2 linked regions of the Homo sapiens genome follow. The protein of the gene in region 2 purifies or fractionates together with the protein of the main gene of each other region. This does not show direct contact. Each region holds a gene or a part of one and is shown on either strand. Other genes may lie near its edges. The genes, in order: TBL1XR1 and SETD5.

Evidence for each region.
Region 1: the proteins of SETD5 (region 2) and TBL1XR1 purify together in Homo sapiens (affinity purification with mass spectrometry; 2 studies listed by BioGRID). This does not show direct contact.

Annotation. Positions count from the first base shown.
Region 1 is NC_000003.12:177,017,084-177,030,167, forward strand, and holds the end of TBL1XR1 (F-box-like/WD repeat-containing protein TBL1XR1), read right to left. Parts: intron 9,392-13,084; coding exon 9,290-9,391; intron 8,442-9,289; coding exon 8,415-8,441; 3' UTR 2,261-8,414; downstream 1-2,260. UniProt on the Homo sapiens protein: F-box-like protein involved in the recruitment of the ubiquitin/19S proteasome complex to nuclear receptor-regulated transcription units. Plays an essential role in transcription activation mediated by nuclear receptors.
Region 2 is NC_000003.12:9,442,578-9,452,879, forward strand, and holds part of SETD5 (histone-lysine N-methyltransferase SETD5), read left to right. Parts: intron 1-730; coding exon 731-840; intron 841-2,470; coding exon 2,471-2,723; intron 2,724-3,079; coding exon 3,080-3,163; intron 3,164-4,472; coding exon 4,473-4,730; intron 4,731-5,108; coding exon 5,109-5,429; intron 5,430-5,810; coding exon 5,811-6,053; intron 6,054-6,902; coding exon of another isoform or gene 6,903-6,968; exon of another isoform or gene 6,969-7,015; intron 7,016-10,302.

The sequences.
Region 1 (13,084 bases), about 170 Mb from region 2:
TATATGCTATTAAAAGTCTGGTAGTTCCATGAAGTTTATAATTGGATTTAGCCTGTACATTGTGCTCTACAGTAGAAAAATTTTCATCCATGTTTAACAAAATCTTCATCACATCATTAGTATTTAGTCATTAAATGCTAAAGAGCATAGGCTTAAAAATTTAGTTGTTTTCTGCTAACCCATAACCCAGATTGTTACTTACAGGTCTAGATTACTCTCTTTCCTGTACTACACTGAGTAAATATACAAAGCACTCTTCAATCTCCCTTCTACAAATTCTTAAATGGCTCCTTTTGAAATCATACCTTGTTAGTGCCAGAAAGTGGCTTGGAGGCAAAGTTTTTTTTTTTTTTTTTTTTTTTTTTTTGAGACAGTCTCGCTCTATCACCCAGGCTGGAGTGCAATGGTGCGATCTCGGCTCACTGCAACCTCCACCTCCCGAGTTCAAGCGATTCTCCTGACTCAGCCTCCTAAGAAGCTGGGATTACAGGCGTGCGCCACCATGCCGGGCTAATTTTTGTATTTTTAGTAGAGACGGGGTTTCACCATGTTGGTCAGGCTGGTCTCAAACTCTTGACCTTGTGATCCACCCGCCTCGGCTTCCCAAATTGCTGGGATTACAGGCGTGAGCCACCATGCCCGTCCAAGGGAGGCGAGTTTTAAAGAATCCTTGAAGTGTGTATTAAACGAGTGTACATCAGAATTGACTGTTCTATTTGTCCTGTAGATATGAATATTTTATTGCTCCATTGTAATAGTAAACGGTGAAAAAGTAAATTTACATTATAGGGGGCTAAATCTTGGTGTACAATAAAATCTTACCATTAGGAATAAAAATGTTTGGTAATATACAGTGTGCTTTATATAACCAGGCACCATTCTCTAAGGGCTTCAGATATATTAACTTTGTAATCTTCACAACCCATCAATGAGAAAAGTAACTATCATTATCCCCATTTTACAGACAAGGAAACCAAGACAGCAACTCCTTAGGCCAAGCAGCTGGTCTGGATTCATCCCAGGTAGTCAGTCAGGCAGAATTCATGCTCTTTAAACCATACAGTATATTCTACATCTACAGTATAGGGAAGTACTTGAATGTACTTAAGTGGATGGGACAATGGTCCCTGATGGTTTCTGTGAAAAAGTGAGTTTCTGAATTCAATGATTATGATCTCTTTTGTATTTTTTTTAAAGTAGGTATTGAAAATGCTTAGAAGGACATATGTCAAGTTGTTAACAGTGGATACCACTAAGGACTTGGTTGGGAGTTTGAAAATGAACATTTATTATTTATACCTTGTATTTAAATTTCTTTAACCAGCATGTGCTCTACAATAAATATACCACATGCTAGTGACAACCACCTCCCACATTATGACACAAAACCAAACAAGCATATGAAAAGCAGCACACATACCTTGTGCTACCATATTGGTCAATGGGTAGGACAAGGCATAAAAGATTCCAACGCACATTCCAAGTTAACCAACACTGTTTAAGAAGTAGAATGAACTTACCGCTAATTGACTCTTATCAGACTTCATTTACTTCAACACCAGATCTGTCCAACTTCAGTTTATTCCCACACACTAAAATATTTCAACCATTTCAGGTGGAAATATTAAAATCCATATTACATAGCTAATTTTTATGTCATATTAAACTTAACTTGAATTATTTGATGACTCTAGGCCATCCCAAATGGCAGCTCTTCATTCTGCTAGGAGTTTTAGCTATTCCTCCCTCTCTATGGGGAGCACTGTTCCTCATGGACCCAGGTTGGAAAATCAGATAATTGATCTGGTCCAGCAAGTGTACGTAAATTAAACCAATAAAAGCTTAGGGAAAAGGTCTTGTCTTGGCAGTGTGTAGATTCTTCAAAATCCCCTATATTGAATGTGAGAGATCCTGGAAGCTGATCCTGTTTTTAAATGTCTGATTTCAGACTGTGAAGTTCAATGTGACTAGATTTTTTAATGCAAGTCTATTTGAGGTGCTCAGGCAGTGCTTGTTTTCTCCACAGGAGCCCGGCCCAGTGGCAATCCAACCTATGCTTTACGGCTTTCTGACAGCACAACATCTCTTAAGGCAGCTCGTTCTGACATTAGATTAGTATGTCAGAAAGTTTGTTTTTTTTTTTTTTAAATAAGACTGTGATATCTTTTTCGGTATAGATTCCACCCCATTGGTCTTAGTTCTTAAAATATAAATTGTCTGCCCAATGGATCATACAAACCCAACAACCAAGAAACATTAGTAATTGTCTTCTGTACTTTACTAAACACTTTGTGTTTAATATATTTTAAATTGTAAAGAAATTACAAGGAACTCCTAAAAAAATTTAATACAAAAATATTACAAGTTAGGACAATTAAGCATTAAGATGACATTTAAGAAGCATGCAGAAAAAGTAGCATAGGGTTAACATTTCATTGATGACAAAGCACTTTGGTACAGCAGAGAAAAGCACCATAAAACTACCATCTAAAGTGTCTTTTCCTCCACTGTATTTTTTCAAATGAATATATTGGTAAAACAGTAAACTTTGATCTGATCTGCTACGGATTATACTAGGTAATAAATCTAATCCATTGTAAAGTGTTAACTATGAAATTAAAAATAATCCCTTCTATTACTGTTCAAATTAGTTTCAGCTTTCCCTCAAGCTTATAAGGATTCTAATCCTTAGGAGTCCAACCCTTTTTGGAAAAGTATACAATGCAGGATATTACTAATAATCTATGCCATGCAATAAAAGTTAACCCCTTGAAAATGAAAGCATGTCAGTTCTAGCAACTGCAGTGGCTTATTTCTAATAAAACATAAAACTATGCTTGAATTTATTTCTGTTTAAGGAAATAAACAGGAAAAATAGAAGACCTAGAGAGTGTAAATTCTTAAAAAAAAAAAAAAGAAAATATGCTCAATGATTCTTTTTAAAAAGTCTCTAACTCTAAAGGAGTTGGTATTAATTAAAACTAGAAGGTGTCTAGTTGTTTTTCTTATAAAGTTTGTAGTAACAACTAGCTAAGAGAGAAAATGATTCAACTATAATTGGCTTGTTGTGAAGCAAAAAAAGGTCACCGAGAAGTTGAGCCTCCTGCCCTAATCTTCAACACATCTACACATTGTTTTGTGCTCAACCGTGTGGCTAACCAAACAAATGTTATCTAAGGTCTCTTTTTCAGCTTCTGTGAAATAACGTCTTTTAAATACAATATTTATTTTTCAAAAGAATTAAAAATTACAATCCCTTAGCTGATTAGATGCTCTATTATACTTTAATAAAAATAGTAAATAACCCCTTCATTTAAAAAAATCTTATCTCCTGCAAGAAGTAATAAAAATAGTAAAATTTGTAATTTTATTATGGGCTTAAAGTATATATCTTGGGAAACAATACGTTTATGAAAAACAGTGGTTTGGGTTCTGATGGCAGTTATTAATCAGTAACACCAGTATGGGAGAGAATGAATGTGTTATAGGTTATGAAGGCTAACTTGGAAAAAAAGGTTTATTCTACAATAGAACACTGGAGAAGTAAAAGCAATTAAAATGTAAACAAACTGTAAACAAGAAATACCATCCCTCTCTCTTTACCTGACTAGTAAATAGTCTATATAAACTACATAGACATCAAAGGTTTTATATATGTACACAGCCAACATAATATCAAAATATATTTTATTCTGGACCTCTTTCAGATCTGATTCAAATTACAGTTGTCAAAGCAATACAATGCAAAGGGGAACTGCAACAACAACAACAACAAGAAATGTGCCTAGAAAGGATAAAAGGGTCACTGGGGACAAATCATTGTGATGTGGAACTAAAATACGTCGTAAGTGTAATTAACATGGTCCAGGACAGCACAGAACATCTACATCAGTCTTCCTTACACAATAATCATGAAAACTGAACAATGAAGTTCTTTAACATGTACAAAAACCTGTCATGGGCTGGTTTACACTTTTACAACAGTTTTAAAGTTAACTGGATAACTAAAGAAATGATGCAGACATTTTAATCCAGTGCTATAGGTAGGCTCACAGAATTAGACCCAAAGGATTTGTAAAAACAAAAATGGAAACAGTATAGCTACAATGTCAAAGTCAGGAAAGAAGAAAATTTACTTCCGTATTCAAGGATTACAGAGCTACAAATGCAGTCTGTGTGTTTTTGTTTGTAATGAGATGGATAAGTACATCAGACTAGATACAACATGCAGAATGTTTTCCTGAACTTATCCGGAAATTCCAAAGAAAACATCATGAAACAGCTTACAAAAAAAAAAAAAATATATGCCCTAGTTATTCACCCTGCTTCAACACTGTCAACGTAAAGGCAGAAATAAAGCAAGCTATCAATACCTCAGAACTACTGATATAAGACATCAAATTTCTAAATCAGTGTATTAAAAAAGTGAACACTTCCTCTTTCTTCTCTCTTCTACATTTAACTAGAATCATGTTTAAAAAAAACTGATATTAAATGTGACACTTCAGAGCTACTACTGGAAGGAGTAATTCATAACTTCCCTACCCTCCTTCCATCCCTGCTGATTCAGGAGAAGGGGGAAAAAACAAAGAAAACAAAACGAAAAACCAACCAGGGTCTCTTGTAGATTTGCTGCTATTCCACAAAATGTTGGCATTTGCTGCCATGCCACAATGTTGGTCCACTGAAATAGGATTTCTGCGGAAACTGTCAACAGTAGTAATTCACCATATGCAAGTACCATCCTTATCATGCGAGAATAATCACAGGTTCTGTAGAAATGTACAATGTACTTAAGATAATGAAAATTGTAGCGCTGCATTTGAGATTTATTTCTCTACTTAGCTAGTAAAACTTGTCATTTTTGCTCACTTAAGTATGATCATTTGTGATTCCTTTAAATAGCAAAAATGCACAGTCCTCTTTAGGCCTCTACTCAATAATAGTTTACATTACTCTTAACAAAATCATTCTACATAAACAGATAGCTCCTTAAAAATAGTACTCTCTCATTAAATCTAATTTGACAGAAAGAAGTTTAAGGGAAAAAGGAGTGCTTTGTAAGTGAAAAAGTACAAATCTTTGGCCTTTCTCTTGACATTTTCGTATGTCAAAAAGCAAAAAACCTTCATGTATTTCAATCTAGTGATTACTTTTTGCACCATAATTTGTTTTTTACACCACAAAAGGAGGCACTTTCAGTATCTGTAAAAGGTATTTAATCCTAAAACATACTTACCTAGAGAATAATTAAAACAGAATTCAATACAATCTAGTATCTATTAGGAAATTAAGAGTTATCACTTCTAAAAGTCATTTGAAAGTCAATGATGTTATCTGGTCAATGGCAGGAAATGGGAACTGGAACAAATATAAGAACTTATGGGATTTCCTACACGGAGACAAAAAAAGATATTCCTTTATGTTGTTTAAAAGTGGCAGCTGCTCTTTCTTTATTCCATTTTAATCAATGAGTATTGATTCAAGTTTTCCTTTCTATTTTTCCTTATGATAAGTTTCTTACAGTAGCTTATACAACAACAAATAGCATAGAAAAACTACTGGATTCAATTGATCATCAGGAATAAGTTCTCAGAAAAACACAGGCGGAAAAATAAGCAAGAATCCCAAATACAGAACTTTACAAGCTGTGAAACTTGGTCTCTTGCAATCATGTTACTGCTCAAATTAGAGACAATCTTATTGCTGTCTATTGGAGCAGCATCGTGGCACATCAGCAGGCAATGATGATGTTGAGAACAGCAGCAAAAATAAACAATCGTATGCTCATGAAGAACCCAAGCCTACAAAATGGATACCTTTCAGAAAAGTATATACTTAAAAGACCCAAGACGTCAGGATAATAAAGCTCTGTATTTATAATCTTTTATATGTCCTATTGTGGCTATTATGCTTAAGTAAAATAGCTAAAGAAAAAAAAGAAAAAAAAAACAGAAAAGATGACAATATCATAAAAATGTAGCTGTCTATTTTGGCAGCTATATTGCAGAATTTCTTGACTATCTTTTAATCAGCTGGGAAAAAGTCAATAACTGTATGCAAATGAATAAACTGTCCATATCAAAATACAAAAGTACTATCAATAATCACCTCTGACTTTCAGATTTAAATTCAGTGCAATTGACAAATGCATCACTAAAGGAAAATGCAGCTTAAAAGATACTCAAAACATTTGTGTCTATTCCTGGGAGCACATTTTAAAATTATTGCACAGATTTTTTTAATTTTTATTTATTTTTTTTAAACAATAACAGAGGTCAACCACAGATGTGGACCTCCAGCAATAAAAGCAGGAATTCAAGTGCCAGATACTCAGCATATTAGGTTTCCTACGTAAGTCACAGGGTAATATGTTCTAAATATCTCTAATGTGATCCAAAACCCTAAAAAGAGCTGGCACAAAACCATCGTGAATGACTGCCTCTCTTGATGTAAATTTTTAAAAATATTATTACAGTATCATAGTCCCCACTAACAACAACTGGGGTACATATAACAATGTATTGTGAAATTAAGTGTATTTATTCTCTTTACCAATAGCAAATGCTACCCTACCTTAGTAAAACCAAGACTTGCTTCAATCAATGCTGTTTTGTAAAAATAGCAAAGCAACGAATGCTGAAATCAATCAAAGCTGCATTACTTGGGTTAAATCAGTTTCTACTTAGAACACAGGTTAAAATTTTAGTACTAAAAGGCCTCAAAATAATTAGTGACAGAAATAGTGTTATTAATTTGCTAAGCTCAACAATAAGCAATTCCTTAATTAAAATCTTCGAGATATAAATTTGATGACTATTCTCTTCAGAAATGACATACCTGGATTATGTTAATCATGACAAGCCTTATTAGTCACACATATAAACATGGCCTCATGCAATCATTTGTCTGTATATGTTACTCTAAGTTGCATGAGCACAAGGTTTAATATCTATATCTTTAAGAAAATACTTGATATTATAAACAGAGTAAAAGACATGATATAGTAGTGATTACTAAAAAAAAAAAAATTAGCAGCTTAAATCTATCTATATTTGAAAAAACGTAGTCACAAGTACCACAAATGCAGAATCAGAGCAGCAGGAAGAAGGTTAGTGCAATTATACTTTCATTAAAAAAAATTCTGAATCACTGCTATTTAAAAACACCTTGAAGCAAGTCTTTTGTTTGAGATTGTTTTTTAAACTAAGGTAGCAAACATTTTGCCATGTAATGGCAGTGTTATATGCCGTTATCTTGCTTTGTATAAAGAAAACAACATGAGAGATTTTTAATACTGGAGTTTGGTTACATTACATATTTAAGCTTCTACACAGAATGATGGACACTTCGAGAAGCTAATCCTTATCCAGAAACATTTTAATCTCTTAAAAAACAAAGCAAAACAAACAAACAACAAAAAACCCAAAACTACGTTGCTCCTTTTCACAATAGTGCACATTTTTACCATAATTTAGTTATGGCTACAAAACATCAGAAGATTTTTTTTAATGTATCTTCTCTATGGTAATTAAAAAAAAAGTTGTGCCCTTCTAGTCTTTAATTGGCAGAAATATGTCCCAAAAAAGAAACTATTGCATTTAAGCCACATCACCAAAAAACAAAAAAGAAAAAAAAAAAAAAAAAGCAAAACAAAAAAACAAAACCAACAGAGCATAATACCCTTTTACTGATGTGTCTTACAGATTGACATGACCAAAGTCATAGGTTTTCATTTAATTTCCAATTCCCCCTTCCACAACATGCACCAACTGAATATATGCTCTGGGAGCCATAAAATGTACCAAACATCTACCTCTTCAAAAGAATGCATTAAAATATTTTAAAGAATTTTTTGTTTAAAAGGTGAAAAAAATATAAACAAGAAACTGATTCACTCCCTTACTTCATGCATCCATAATCTAAACCAAAAACGAAATTTTAAAGCAAGAACAAACTACTGCTGCAAGTTTTTGTAAGTCCATTTTCTCTGTACATACAAACTGCTCACTACTGAAGGGAAAAAAAGAATATAATCCATGGTGTCTGCTGATTCAAAGGGGAGAAACAAGGCTGTCATTTAGTATCCAAAAACTGGTACATGTATGTTCTGCTTTTATAATGTATATTTTTCTCTCTTCTGTTTTTCATATCCAAAACTTCTAAATGCTATTTTAGGGGCACAGCAGATTAGATTCCAGCACTTGGTGAACAGAATTCACAAGCTGTGACAAAACTCTGTCATCTTCAGGGTGCAATTTTGTTTATATACACTGTATGTATATATTTCTTTTAGATTTGGCTGTAGTGGACTGGCCATGGTTCAAGTGGGACTATAGCAGTACATGGGTCAGGGACAGTCATTTTGGCTATGTACACATTCATAGTCGGTCCATGGCTTCCAACTAGTAGCGCTATTTCCGAAGGTCTAATACACAAACCTGTAAGAAATTAAAATAATCAACCAGTGTATTCAGAATTTTATTGTACATTTTATGTTTAACTTTTCTATAGTACAATTTGAAATGTTTCTTAGTTCCAAGTTTATAAAATTGGTAAAGCATAATAATCATGGAAATGAGCACTTAACTGACAGAAATCAGACAGATCATTTAAGCAGATCAAGAGAACAACCATGAGCTCAAACTGTGGGGGAAGAACCACGGCTAGGATTTTTATACTCTCTGTTGATTAAAAAGGAGGGGGAAAATGCTCAAAACAGACCATTTCCTATCTATTGGACCCTAATGAAAGATATCACAGATTATATTCAGCTACAGCATCAGTAAATAGCTACCCTTTTCCCACCTTCTGGTGCTTCTACAGCTTTGGAAGCCATATTTGCATTGTTGTAAAGAGTTGGCTAACCTCATCCTGAAAATCTTTCAGTATCACACATTCCTCAACACAGGAACCAACTGCCTCTAGTTCTGCCTTCCCTGGGCCAAAAAAATTCTTCTGTGAAGAGGAGAAGGTAGAAATACACATTAAACATTTCAATCCTTCTCAGAATGTTCCTCTGGTATACCTAATTTCATAAATGAAGGTTCATATTAAAAATAACTGTCCATTTCTAGATTATAAGGTATTTGGTAAGGACAGCCTAAATTTTGTTTACATTATTTGAATCCAACGCACATGAAAAGTTTACAGCCTCAGGAAAAAAAAAAATCAGTATCATACCTTAAAATTTATTTTGAAAAAAACACTTTGGTATCACTAACAATAAGCTGCATTCTGATGTGAATACCCACCCACACCCTCTTTGGAAACACTTTACTATACTTACTGAACCATCTGATGCACTGGCTCCAACTTTGTCTCCTGCTGCATTCCAGCAAACTTCAAATATTCCACCTGTTCCCCTATAGCTGTGAACTAGAGCACCTGTCTAAAAGAATGAAAAACAAAATCTTAAAAATCGTAATACATATTATAATAAATCCAAATGCTGAAATAAAAATATTACATAGCTTTATTTCTAGCAATCAGAGGAGGGACTTAGCTTCAACTATAAAAATAAGTTCTGAAATTCTAGAAATGTAATATGATCCCTTTACAAAAAGATAATACCAGCCTGTTCTCAAAAGATTACTCACACACATATTCAGTTTCTCCAGTCTTGATAACCATTCTTGGCTAAGGTATCTGGTCTCTCTGACATAGCCAACAATAGCTAGAAGTAAACAGTCAGTCTATCACATGAAATAAGTTTTTGTTGTTGCTAAATGATACATGAGTCTAGCTAACATGTAGAGAAACAAAATAAATTCAGAATTTCTTTGACAAAACATCTTAAAGAGGAAGTATAACAAACTAGTAAAGATAATTCCAGTATAAATCTGTTATTCACTCTATATTTACTGACCAGTTCCTAAGCTAGGGGATTATAAAAGAAGCTAAAATAATGTATGTATGTTCCTTTTTTTTCTTTAGACAGGGTCTTGTTGTTACCCAGGATGGATGCAGCTGTGCAATCATAGCTCACTGCACCTTCTAACTCCTGGGCTAGAGTGATCCTCCCGCCTCCACCTCCTAAGTAGCTAGGATTACAAGTGCATGCCACCATGCCCAGCTGATTTTTAAAAAATTATTTGTAGAGACAAGGTCTCACCGTGTTGCCCAGGCTGGTCTTGAACTCCTGGCCTCAAGCAATCCACCCACCCTGGCCTCCCAAAATGTTGGGATTATAAGCATGCACCACAGTGCCCAGACAGATATGTACACTATTCTTGAAAGACGTTATATGTTTAAACAAAAAACACAGGCAGGAATACTAATAATGTAATCATTCATTAAGCTGAATCATAAATGTAACAACGTTATTTTATTATTCAGCTGCTACTGAAGAATTAAAACTCAATCCAAAAATATATTCTCCTATGAAACCAGTCAATATAACAGGACAAAGATCAGAGGTCCTGTTATGAAAACTGAAATATATGCTTCAGGTGTTCGGCCCTGACAAATCAGAAAAGTGACCTCTGCAGCTTTATGGTAACCTAAAGTCAAGCTAGAGGTGGCAGATCTACTTAAAAGCACATGGCAACAAACCATGCACCTTGAAAATACCTCCCATTCAGCCTATCCAAGATGACAAGCTGGAAGAATGTTTGACCGAGCTTTCCTCTTCAAATTTAGCCCAGTAATGTGGCACAAATCACAGATGCATTGGTACTGACACATTGCTACTGATTATCAGGCTGGGAAGGCTCAACTGTTTTGTTTACTTAAAATTTCTCATAATTTATGAGATTAAGTTCAAGTATAGTAGGCTTTGAGTATCTATAGTTAATGAGGAGAGAAAAAAGTAGAACCAACAAAATCTAGTTTGCTGAGATATAAAAAATAAAATCTACAGTCAACCTACAGACATTCAATCTACAGCCAACTTGGGGGTTAAAAAAACAAAACAACTTTCTTTTAAAAAGCACTTACCAATCTCTAAGCTTGAACTGGGCTATAACGAACCAAAACATTATGGGCAACAAGGCAGAGCTAAGACATTTAAAAAGGCCAATGGCTCAGATCATCGGCATCTACCTCAAATTTGTATGTATGCTGGCACAAGACTTCTACAATTTACTCATCAAATGCTTAGGCAACTCATCATACAAGAAAGGGGAAAACAAAAAACCTGGATGTATATACAACAATAGGATAATGATTTTCTCCTGCACTGAAAATTCACTGTTTTACTATTTTCAAAGTTTGAAAAAGTAAGACTTTTGGTACACAATAGTGAAAACAAAATAATATGAACAGTTGGTCAAATGCCCTTCAATGTCTTGTAGTATCTTCCATTAGCACTCTACAGTTCTATGCCCAAATTTCATTAAAATTGATTTTGTCACAATGGACTAAATGAGTTCACTGAAAATGTTCTAAATGTGAGCAACAACTAGTATATAAAAGGAATGTATTTTTTAAAAGAGGTCATTCATAGTAACATAAAAACCATAAGGCACCTCAAAACACATTAGGAAAAAAGATCCTTAGAGAAACTATAAAACTTTACCAAAGGAATAAAAGACAAATAAATGGAGGTATAACGTATTTATGGGTGATAAAACTCAATAACGATTTTCCCTAATTTCACCTATAAATTCAAGGCACTCATAAACAAAATCCAAAATTGTGTGCTCTGTTTTGGAAATATGGATGACTAAAGTGGCAAGAACAGAAAAACAGTTTTGAAGAATAACAACAAGAGGGATTTATAAAGTTAGAATTATTAAAACTATGCTATTGATTCAGATAAGGCAAATACGTAAATGGAATAAAAGAGAAGGTAATAAACAAACTGCATATACATGAACTAGGTATATGAAACCGGCATTATGAAAACAGAAAGGGGACAATGAATGGTGCTAAGACAACTGACTACCCAAATGGAAATATCTATACCTCACACCATATATAAAAATCAGTTCCAAAGGGGCTAAAAAAATAAATGTAAAGGAATAAAACTTAGATACTTCATGAAAAAATATCAGACCTCAGTGATATCTATAAGGAAAAATGTATTAAGCTATGAAAAAAAAAAAAAGCTATCAAAAAGGAAAGATCTAGCCGGGCACAGTGGCATGTGCCTGTAGACCCAGCTACACAGAATGCTGAGGTCAAAGGATCTCTTGAGCTGAGGAGTCCAGCCTGGGTAACACAGCAAGACCCTATCTCTAAAAATAATCAACTAATTTTAAAAAGAAAGATAAATACATCTAAACATTAACATTAAAAACTTTCATATGATCTGGGCGTGATGCCTCATGCCTGTAATCCCAGGAATACTTTGGAAGGCTGAGGCAAGTGGATCCCTTGAGCCTAGGGGGTTGAGGCCAGACTGGGCAACATGGCAAAACCCGGTCTCTACAGAAAAATACAAAAATTAGTGGGGTGTGGTGGCATGCAGCTGTGATCCCAGCTACTTGGAAGGCTGAGGTGGGAGGATTAGCTAAGCCCAGGAAGGCCAAGGCTGCAGTAAGCCTTGATCTGCCACTGCATTCCAGCCTAGGCGACATAGTGAGACTCTATCTCAAGACAAAACAAAACAACAACCAAAAAACCCCACAAAACTTCTACGTGATAAACACTCCACATGAAGAAAATAAAAAAGAAGGTACTGGGAGATCACTGGAATCCATATAACCAGGAAGGATTAGTACCCAGAATGCATAATGAACACTAATCAGTACAGAATATAAAACAATTGAAAAATTGTGGTGGTGGTGGTGAACTAAAATGCTAAAGTCCAACTGTATAATAACTATTTGAAAAGATATTTAAACTAATTGACAATCAAGAAAATGCAAATACAAAATGTTTCATATCCATGTAATTGGAAAAATGTTCACCAGTCTGATAACCTAAAGATAAAGGAAAATGGGAAATCCTAAATATTGTGATTAGAAATGTAAATGGGTGTATGCACGTTGAAGAGCAGTTAGGCACAAGCACGTAAATATACCGTATGGGCCATGACTTCCACTTACAGGATATGCTATGCACAGGTGTGTGTGTGTATGTGTGTGTGTGTGTATATATATATAGAGAGAGAGAGAGAGAGACAGACACACACAGAGAA
Region 2 (10,302 bases):
GTTGCAGTTTTTTTAGATTTTAGTGAGTAATGTTTTATGAGAGGATCTAGACATTTCTAGAATTCATTACTCAGAGCAACCACATCAAATAAAGCAAGAAAATCCACAGAGCTTTACTTACTGGCTAAGGAATTTTAATTCTCTGGTGGAGCTGGAAACAGCTATAAGATGTGAAAGCGGCTGGGCGCAGTGGCTCATGCCTGTAATCCCAGCACTTCGGAAGGCTGAGGTGGGCAGATAACAAGGTCAGGAGTTCGAGACCAGCCTGGCCAACATGGTGAAACCCCGTCTCTACTAAAAAAAAATAGAAAACTTAGCCAGGCATTGTGGCGTGTGCCTGTATTCCCAGGTACTCAGGAGGCTGAGACAGGAGAATTGCTTGAACCCGGGAGGCAGAGGTTGCCGTGAGCCGAGATCACGCCACTCCACTCCAGCCTGAGCGACAGAGCAAGACTGTATCTCAAAAAAAAGATGTGAAAGTAGAGATTTTACCCTGATTTCTAACATCTCAAGGTTTCTCCACATATTTAAGAAAGTATTATAAATTTTCAAGCCAGTGCAGTATAATAGTTTCAGATGAAATGAAGGGGTTAAATAACAGATTACCATAACTCCTTAAATAAATAATAGATTACCATAACTCCAAATGGAGAGAAAGTATGGTTTTTTTCTCTCTTACGGAAAGTTCATGGTCTTTATGAAAAATCCAACCAGAAGCCTTTTCACACAGGTGCGACACATGATTGCAGATGGGATGATTCACCTGTGCATCTATGCTGTGTCTGCCATCACCAAGGATGCTGAGGTCACCATAGCATTTGATTATGAGTATAGTAACTGGTAAGACCTCAGAAACCTTTCCTAACAGGAATATCCATGTCTTACATATTAAGCTATTCACTCTATTTAAAGTCTGCTCTTGTTTCTTGCCTTTTCCTTTGTTTACTTAATCTTTTCATGACTAATGAATTTTCTGCCTAGAAATTGTAAAGGAAAAGACAGGCAAGATTTTTTTTAGAGATACGGATACCTTGTATGATACTGCTCACAAATTTCCTGACAGAAGTGTTTTCGCTTATGCCTTTTTAGCAAGAATAGCAAAATGGATATATATGTATGTATGAGACACTCCTGGAAATTACAATAGCATCCTGTTGTTATGCACAGAGTACTTATGTCAGGGACCATATAGAATGAGAATTTAGGCCAGGCGCAGTGGCTCACAGGCCTGTAATCTCAACACTTTGGAAGGCTGAGGCGGGCGGATCACGAGGTCAGGAGATCGAGACCATCCTGGCCAATGATGAAACCCTGTCTCTACTAAAAACACAAAAATTAGCTGGGCGTGGCGGCACACGCCTGTAGTCCCAGCCACTTGAGAGGCTGAGGCAGGAGAATCACTCGAACCTGAGAGGCTGAGGCTGCAGTAAGCCAAGATCACGCCACTGCACTCCAGCCTGGCAACAGAGGGAGACTCTGTCTTAAAAAAAAAGAGAGAGAATTTAATATGTTACCTCTACTTTTAATTTGTCAATTATACCCTTATAAAGCTAGGGGTGAGATTTAAAGATCCACCCTGTCCACAGAAACCATGTTATCTAGCTGTATATGACAGTGCAGAAAACCATAAAGGGCAATTCATAGATGAATATGTGGGATTTTTTAAAGTATATGCTTTTTGTTCTTTGGTCATTTGGGGCAAAATAGAGGTTATGTGGTAAAGTGATGTTTGGCCCAGGTATAAGGAAAAAAGATGTTCTGCTTAATTCATCAAGGAAAATAAAAAAGGTTTTAAGAAGGTTATAAAAGGTTTTAAGAAGTAGGGAATTAGTAGGTAAAAGTGAGGACATGGTAATCGTGGGCACAAGATGAGTATGGCCACATCAGACTTTATCATTGATAAACTGCCTGCTAAATAGCCAATAAACCACTGGGGGGATTGAATTTAGGGAGGGCTTTCTTTTTTTTTTCCCACTGACCATGGAGTAGAATTGGGGTTACACAAAGAAAGACAGAATATTGAAAGTGTTACGTCAGGCGCGGTGACTGACGCCTGTAATCCCAGCACTTTGGGAGGCTAAGGCTGGAGGATCACTTGAGCCCAGGAGTTCAAGACCAGCCTAGACAACATGGCAAAACCCCGTCTCTGCCGAAAATAAAAAAATTAGCTGGGCGTGTAGTCCCAGCTACTCAGGAGGCTGAGGTAGGAGGATCACTTGAGCCCAGGAAACAGAGATTACCGAGAGCTGTGATGCACCACTGCACTCCAGCCTAGATGACAGAGCGAGATTCCGTCTCCAATAAAAAGAAAAACAAAAGTATTTATAGGACTCTCTAATGTCTCTGTTTAACTTATTCAGAGACAATATCAGAGGAAGTTACTGTACTGATATTTTAAGAGGGTGAATGGATAATGTAACTGAATTTCAAGGGTACTGAGACAGGCATTTTGGTTGTTTCTTTGGAGCAGTAATTATAAAGTGGACTGTGCCTGTCACAAGGGAAACCGGAATTGTCCTATACAAAAAAGGAATCCTAATGCTACAGAACTGCCACTCCTACCACCTCCTCCAAGCCTACCCACCATTGGAGCAGAGACTAGACGTAGAAAAGCACGACGGAAAGAGCTAGAGATGGAGCAGCAGAATGAGGCTTCAGAGGAGAATAATGACCAGCAATCACAAGAAGTTCCAGAAAAAGTAACTGTATCCAGTGATCATGAGGTAATCGCCCCTGGTCAAATGATGATGCTATGGCATCAATCCTCCAAAGGAAGAGGAACCCGGGTTGCCGCATGGTTTAAGTAGGGGAGCTATAGTAACACTTAGTGCCCTTTATATCAATGTGGGTTTATTGTGTTCATACATTTCTTTCTGTTTTACAAAGTCAAAAACATCCTTTGCTGGTTTTGCACCAGAGAATAGGGGTTAGTTATCATCTGTGTTTACCATGTGGCCTCACATGAGTTAACAGTTTAAAGCACTAGAGATTGTTATAGAGAGTTTTAAGCTACCAGAATAAAACAGATTGATTTTTTCTCAGAGCTTGAGTACAGCTGAATATTGCCTCTATCTTAAAGGAAGTAGACAATCCAGAAGAAAAACCAGAAGAAGAGAAAGAAGAGGTTATAGATGACCAGGAGAACCTAGCTCATAGCAGGAGGGTGAGTACTGTCTGACATTACTTTGCTCCTTCTCATTCCTGCTACCTCCATCATGTGAACCTCTTCTGTTCTCTTGACTTTGTATCATCTCATTGATTTGACCTGAAGGTTATAATTTGGGCTTTTTCCGTAATAAAGATTTTATTATAATTTTTTTATTTATTTTTCTCTATACACACAGTAGTTTTGTAGTGATTATTATCTAGTGATGGTTTGAAGAGGTTGTTTTTTTTTTTTTTTTTTTTTTTACTAACAATCTGGTTTCCGCTGGGCGCGGTGGCTCACGCCTGTAATCCCAGCACTTTGGGAGGGCGAGGTGGGCGGATCACGAGGTCAGGAGATCGAGACCATCCTCGCTAACACGGTGAAACCTTGTCTCTACTAAAAATACAAAAAATTAGCCGGGCGCGGTGGCGGGTGCCTGTAGTCCCAGCTACTCGGGAGGCTAAGGCAGGAGAATGGCATGAACCTGGGAGGCAGAGCTTGCAGTGAGTGGAGATAGCGCCACTGCACTCCGGCCTGGGCAAAAGAGCGAGACTCCATCTCAAAAAAAAAAAAAAAAAAAAAATCTGGTTTCCGAAAAACTGGCTGGTCAGAATCAAAATGTATTATAGTTGGTTTGCTCTGAATTAGGAATTTTCTAGGTTTTTGTGAGTTCTGAAGTTTTTTTAAACCCTTTTAGTCATATGAACTAAAATTTTCTACTTTTATGCTGAAACCAATCCTGTGTGTTTATGACCCTGATTTGATGACTTTTTTTTTTTTCTTTTTGAGACCGACTCTTGCTCTGTCACCAGGCTGGAGTGCAGTGGCGCAATCTCAACTCACCACAATCTCTGCCTCCCGGGTTCAAGCAATTCCCCTTCCTTAGCCTCCCAAGTAGCTGGCATTACAAGCATGCGCCACCATGCCTGGGTAATTTTTTGTATTTTAGTAGAGACGGAGTTTCACCATGTTGGCCACGACGGTCTCAATCTCCCGACCTCATGATCTTCCCACCTCAGCCTCCCAAAGTACTGGGATTACAGGCGTGAGCCACTGCACCCATCCTGTTTTTCTTTCATATTAAAGTTTCAAAATAACTGACCCTTTTTGAAAAGTTTATGTTTGACCTTGCCTTTATTTACAACTATTCCCCACATTTAAAATGAAATATTTTATTTTTAATCTTCTGTTTTCCAAGTTATATGTGTCATCTTACTGGTAGTTAAATGAATTTCTGTAAATTTCCATTAAAAATACTTTTATAAAAGCTATCCACTCGTCCTCATTTGAAGCTTCCTTCTACACCAGTACTATCTCTTTCTAGACCAGGGAAGATAGAAAGGTAGAAGCCATCATGCATGCTTTTGAAAACTTAGAGAAAAGAAAGAAGCGGCGGGATCAGCCCTTGGAACAGAGCAACTCTGATGTAGAGATTACTACAACCACCTCAGAGACTCCTGTTGGTGAAGAGACAAAAACTGAAGCCCCTGAATCTGAAGTTAGCAACTCTGTTTCAAATGTTACCATCCCAAGCACCCCACAGAGTGTTGGTGTGAATACCCGGAGGTCTTCCCAAGCAGGGGTAAGAGTTGAAAAGACTTCAGCACTTAGACATCCTCACCTTTGCTAATGTCAATACCTAACTTTTGGAATTTTTAAAATCAGTGTTTTCAGCTTTGCTCCATATCACAATAAATAAGGCCATTAACTGTTTAACTGGAACCATTTCATTGGCCTATTTTATAAATGCTTATTAGAAATAACGCAAACATTTGTCGCTAGCCTCTTTAGCTCATTTAAGTGTATACATTTTTGTATTTAAAAATTAGATTTTAAATTAGTGTTTCTAATCCTTATATTTTTCATCAGTAGACATTCTGAATGCTTAAAGTGAATAGGAAATTAGACTGTTTGCTGATAAAACATTTCTGGTAAGCATCTGACCCTACTATTGCTACAGGATATTGCTGCAGAAAAACTAGTCCCCAAGCCACCTCCAGCAAAGCCTTCTAGGCCCCGGCCGAAGAGTCGAATTTCTCGGTACAGGACCAGTTCAGCCCAAAGACTAAAGCGTCAGAAGCAGGCCAATGCACAGCAGGCAGAATTGTCACAAGCTGCCTTGGAAGAGGGAGGAAGTAACAGTTTAGTAACTCCTACTGAAGCTGGAAGTCTAGACAGTTCAGGAGAAAACAGGCCATTAACAGGGTCTGACCCAACTGTGGTGTCAATTACTGGATCCCATGTCAACCGTGCTGCATCTAAATACCCCAAAACCAAAAAGGTAAGTCACAAATGCATCCTTTATAAGTCCAGTCTGGCAAGGGCTGTCTTAGTGAAATGAGAGGACCTATAATCCCTAGAAGAAACTAATCTCAATATTACTAGATTGAAAGTTCTAAAATGCTTTGACACAAAAGGCTGGAGTCATCCTGCTACCTGTTTCCTTATTTTTAGTCAGCTTAAATCACTGATAGCTGAAATTATTCCTCTCTTAGTGGGCGTGGAGAGGGTGAAGGAAGATATCCTTGTGTTCTAGTTGCTCAATTCATTCTTACTGCAGCTGCTGCATCTCCTCCTGTCCTAGTTTCTAGATGACGTTTGTCTTTATGAACTACACTGCTACCTCTTGATTTATAAACTAATGATCTCTTTTTTACCTTAGTATCTAGTTACAGAATGGTTGAATGACAAAGCAGAGAAGCAAGAGTGCCCTGTTGAGTGCCCTTTACGTATCACAACGGATCCAACTGTACTGGCAACGACCCTAAACATGTTACCAGGTCTTATCCATTCCCCGTTAATTTGCACCACCCCCAAACACTACATTCGCTTTGGCTCACCCTTTATCCCTGAGAGACGTCGAAGGCCCCTTCTGCCTGATGGCACATTCAGCTCCTGTAAGAAGGTATGTCTGTGTTTTTGTGTGTGTGTTGTGTTTATGTGTGTGTGCTTTATTTTTTTAAGCCTAAGATTCCTATCATCATGACATAAATAAAATGTTCTCTAGATAGCCACTCTGCCCATGTGAGTTTATAATGAGTTAGTTGTTCAGCCATAAATACTGATTCATCAAGAGTCTGTGAGACTGTGGTGGAATGAATGTACTGCATTTTTAGTGCTCAGATTTGTGACTGGTCACTGATGTCTCTTCTGAGAACCCTTGAGGTTCCTGAGTGAGAGCACACAGCAGTGGATGACTGGGTAGAGACGGATATGTTTTGTGTGTGCTCTTGTGATATGGGTTAACATGTCCATTTATGATTATTGTGTGAGATTAGGCCCTGGGTCCTCTAGAACACTGTTGCATAAATGAAAAAAATTAAATTGTTTTGAATCAATTCAACCGTTATTATCCACTATCATCACTTGAAGGAAATTAGAGGAAAAATCCTATTGTAATTGGCATAATTCCTGTTCCTTGATCAAATGACAAGTCGGACTGTTTATTCCAAGAGAATACAGAATCTACCCTAAAAGACTCTCTTTCCCTCTCTGTTTCTGCCTCTTTCTCCTCTTTCCAGTTACTTACTGTTTTTGGATCTAGTGGCAGTAGCGTTTGGTGGTGTTTTTGGAATGCTCTTTCTTAATTCCCAGAAGCCCTGCATATTTTCCAAAGGTGTCTCTTAGGAATAGATCACTCCCTCAGATCTATGATGTCGTTTTCCATGTTTCTAGAAGTATAGGACACCCTTTCATTTGGTCTTCCTTTGAGGTAGAGTCTGTTCCCTGGAACACCCTTTTCTCTTATCCTCAGATCTGGATTCAGGCTGCCTTCCTCAGTGTCTGCCATTGCCCTCCTCCACTGGCATCACGTACATGAGGATGCTGCATGTAGATTATTTGATGTGATGAAGTCTCCAACTCCAGGCAGGTCTTCCCTGACTCCTCCAAACTTAAAAGCTTTTCTCTTTCCCCAAAGAACAGAAGTTATTTCTCCGGGGGAGGGGGGCATGAAAGATGAGCCAAAGTGGTGTGGGATATGGAGGGGAGGAGGGCAATAGGAATCTGCAAAAAGGAAGGACACTACTGCTGAATGAGCAGCACATTGCAGAAAGTCTTTTCCTAATTGCACATCTTACCTAAACATTGGAATCACTCATTGGTTTGTTCGGGGAAACGCTCGTAGAATTCCTAAAGAGAAATTTGACCATTTCTAAGGATGTTAACTGTTGAAGCATCTTATCAAGCCAGGTCGTACAATCTCCTATTTTGGTCCTTTAAGGAGTGTAGGCAATTATTTATTACAGATAAGTAATGAAGTCTGAGCTGCAAATAATATGAACTAGGCTCTTGAATTGAAATTCCTTCTTGATAATTCTAATGCTGGGTTGCAGTCTTTCTGTTTCCATCTTTTCCAACTAGCAGAGACTTAACGAAAACCAAAAACGTGTCTAGGACTGTAACTTCAGATCTGGTAGAAAATGCATTTCTTTAAGCTTTTTTAACTTGGTTCTGCTTTTATACTTGTATCTATAGCACATCCTTAAATTTCTACGGGCAACAGATAGAAATTCCATTTAACACAAGTCCCTGTTATATTCTCCAAGTGTATCTGACTATCCTTAATCTCATTTATACAGGCTCTACTCAAGCACTTTTATCTATGTGTCATGGTTAGTCTTTAGGAAGAGTTTAGGCTGCATACACAGGATTATCATAACAAGACTATTTAAATAGGATCTTTAAAAACTGTTTAAGTCATTGCTTTATTGTGTGCTGTTCACATATCAAGATTCTATTTTTTAAAATACAGCTTTTTATGAGGCAAAATAAAATGAAATGGAATGTTTTAGCTAGAATAGAATTTGGCTTTATAGCAGTGAAGAAGAGTTCTTCTTCTAATATTGGTCTTCTTCTAATATCTCCTAATATTGGTTAGAAAGGACTTACCTAATGCAGAACCTAAGAACATTTTCATTATTCAACAAAATTGTAATAAAATTCTGAAAATCCCTCAGAGTATAAGTTAATCAGATAGATAAGAAAACCCTCCATGGGATTATTTAGAACAATGTATATTTCTAATAGGCTCACTGTTTCATATCTCACTAAAGAGGTAAGGGCCTGGCCTTGTAAGTTAAAAACTTACCAGTATAGGACAAATTAAAGTTGTATCTGTATAGTTGTACTCAGATTCTTATGCTATTTATTTTTATTTTTATCATTATTATTCTGCAACTTCTGAAAAGAAGAGGAGTTCAGGTATTTGACAGAACATTTTATGATATCCCTAGAGTTTCTAAATTGAATCATAGTTTTTAAGAAGCATTTTGCATTTTTTAGTTCCTCAGTTGGTATTTTAAAAACATTTATAAGTGGCCAACAAGGCTCTCAGTAGTGTTTCACCTTGTTCTCTCTAAACTCCTCTTCTAAACACAATGTGTATAGGGCATTTGGTCTCCAGACTTCTTAGAAAAACCAGTCTGACTGATAATGAAACAGTGTGCTTTGCATTGATAATTAATATTTCATTTTATACACTGGAGCATTATCTGTAAATCTCCAAACATAGCATTGAAATTTAGTTGAACCGGGACTCGGTGAAAATCTGCTCAGTGTTCAGTACTGTACTATAAGCTTTCTTCACATACATTATCTCACTTACCATGCATGAAATTGGGATCATTGTCCTAAATTTATATATCCAGAAGCTTTGTCTCAGAAATGTTTGGTAACTTGTCCAAAGTGAAGCAGCTAATAAGTGACACAGCCAGATTTCTTCTGGTGGGGGATAGTAGGGGTTCACAGGGTCTCACTGTTGTCCAGGCTGGAGTGCAGTGGCATCATCACAGGCTCACTGCAGCCTTGACCTCCTGGGCTCAAATGGTCCTCCTACCTCAACCTCTCGTGTAGCTGGGACCACAGGCACACCACCACGCCTGGCTAATATTCATATTTTTTGTAGCGACAGGGTTTTGCTGTGTTTCCTAGGCTGATCTCAAACTCCTGAGTGCAAGGAGTCTGCCCACCTTGGCCTCACATTCTGCTGGGATTACAGATACGAGCTACTGAGCCCAGCCTCACAGCCAAGTGTCAAGCCAGGGCTTCTGGACTCCAAAACCTGTATTGCTTCCTTGCTCTTTCGCCATAATAGCGAGACCTTTAAAATATTTATCCATCTTTGAGCCTCCCAGAAAACTCCTTTGCAATATATTTTAATAGAGGTTCAGAGAAGGGAGAAATGTTCTTTTGATTTTAACAACTTGCTGAGTAGGTGCATCTAAAATTAACTTATTATCCATGAGGTTAATTGTATCTTGTTAGATACAAACAAATGTCCATGTTCCTTTTTTATATGAGTCCTGAAATATTGTAAAATTATACAACAGAACCTGGAGGAGTAGGTTTGATTGTATTTGCTGTGTTTCACCTCATAGCTAACCATGGTAGCATCTTTCTTCTAGAATACTCCTGTTCTGATTTTATGTTCCCTTTTTGTAGTCATCAGATCCAGAATGTAAATTATTTTACAAGTACATCTACTAGACCCTGGAAATATTAAAAAATTACTCAGATAGGAAAGCTTAGTGACCCCAAATGAGTGTTTTCTGCTTTGAAAAGAAAAACTTAAAGGTGGCCATAACAAAAGATTTTTCACTCCTGAGCCTAATTTTTCCATTTATAAAATGAGTGCTTTGGACAAGATGACTTCTAAGTTCTCTTCTAAGCTTTAAGGCTATATGTATGGTTCTGACAATTCATCTTTACATCATTATTCTGTATCTAAGATAGTTCATTCTTCGGATTTTTTATTTTGTTTTTGTGTTTGCTTTTCAGAGACCTGGTTGTATCCTAAAATGTTTACGTGATTCAAATTACCATTGAGAGCTCTTTTTTATATCCTTGTTCACTCTTCCTTCCAAGTGTTTACAGGTTTACAGTTTCAGTTTTGCTTTCATTTGGCCAGCCACAATGACATTTGTATGATGTAAGATTTTTTTTTTTTTTTTTTTTTTTTTGGTAAAATTTTTGTGGATTGTTTCCTAGGTTTCTAAGAGGGAAAATCTATGAGAATTGCTCTCTGGTGAAGAGAGTATTTACTTACCTGTAATACATGTTCTCTAAAGGTATAAATTATAATAATTCACCTTTGCTCTTCCTATTGGGGGAGGGTCTTACTCAGAAATTGATGTTTATCAAAATTCGATCTGTCT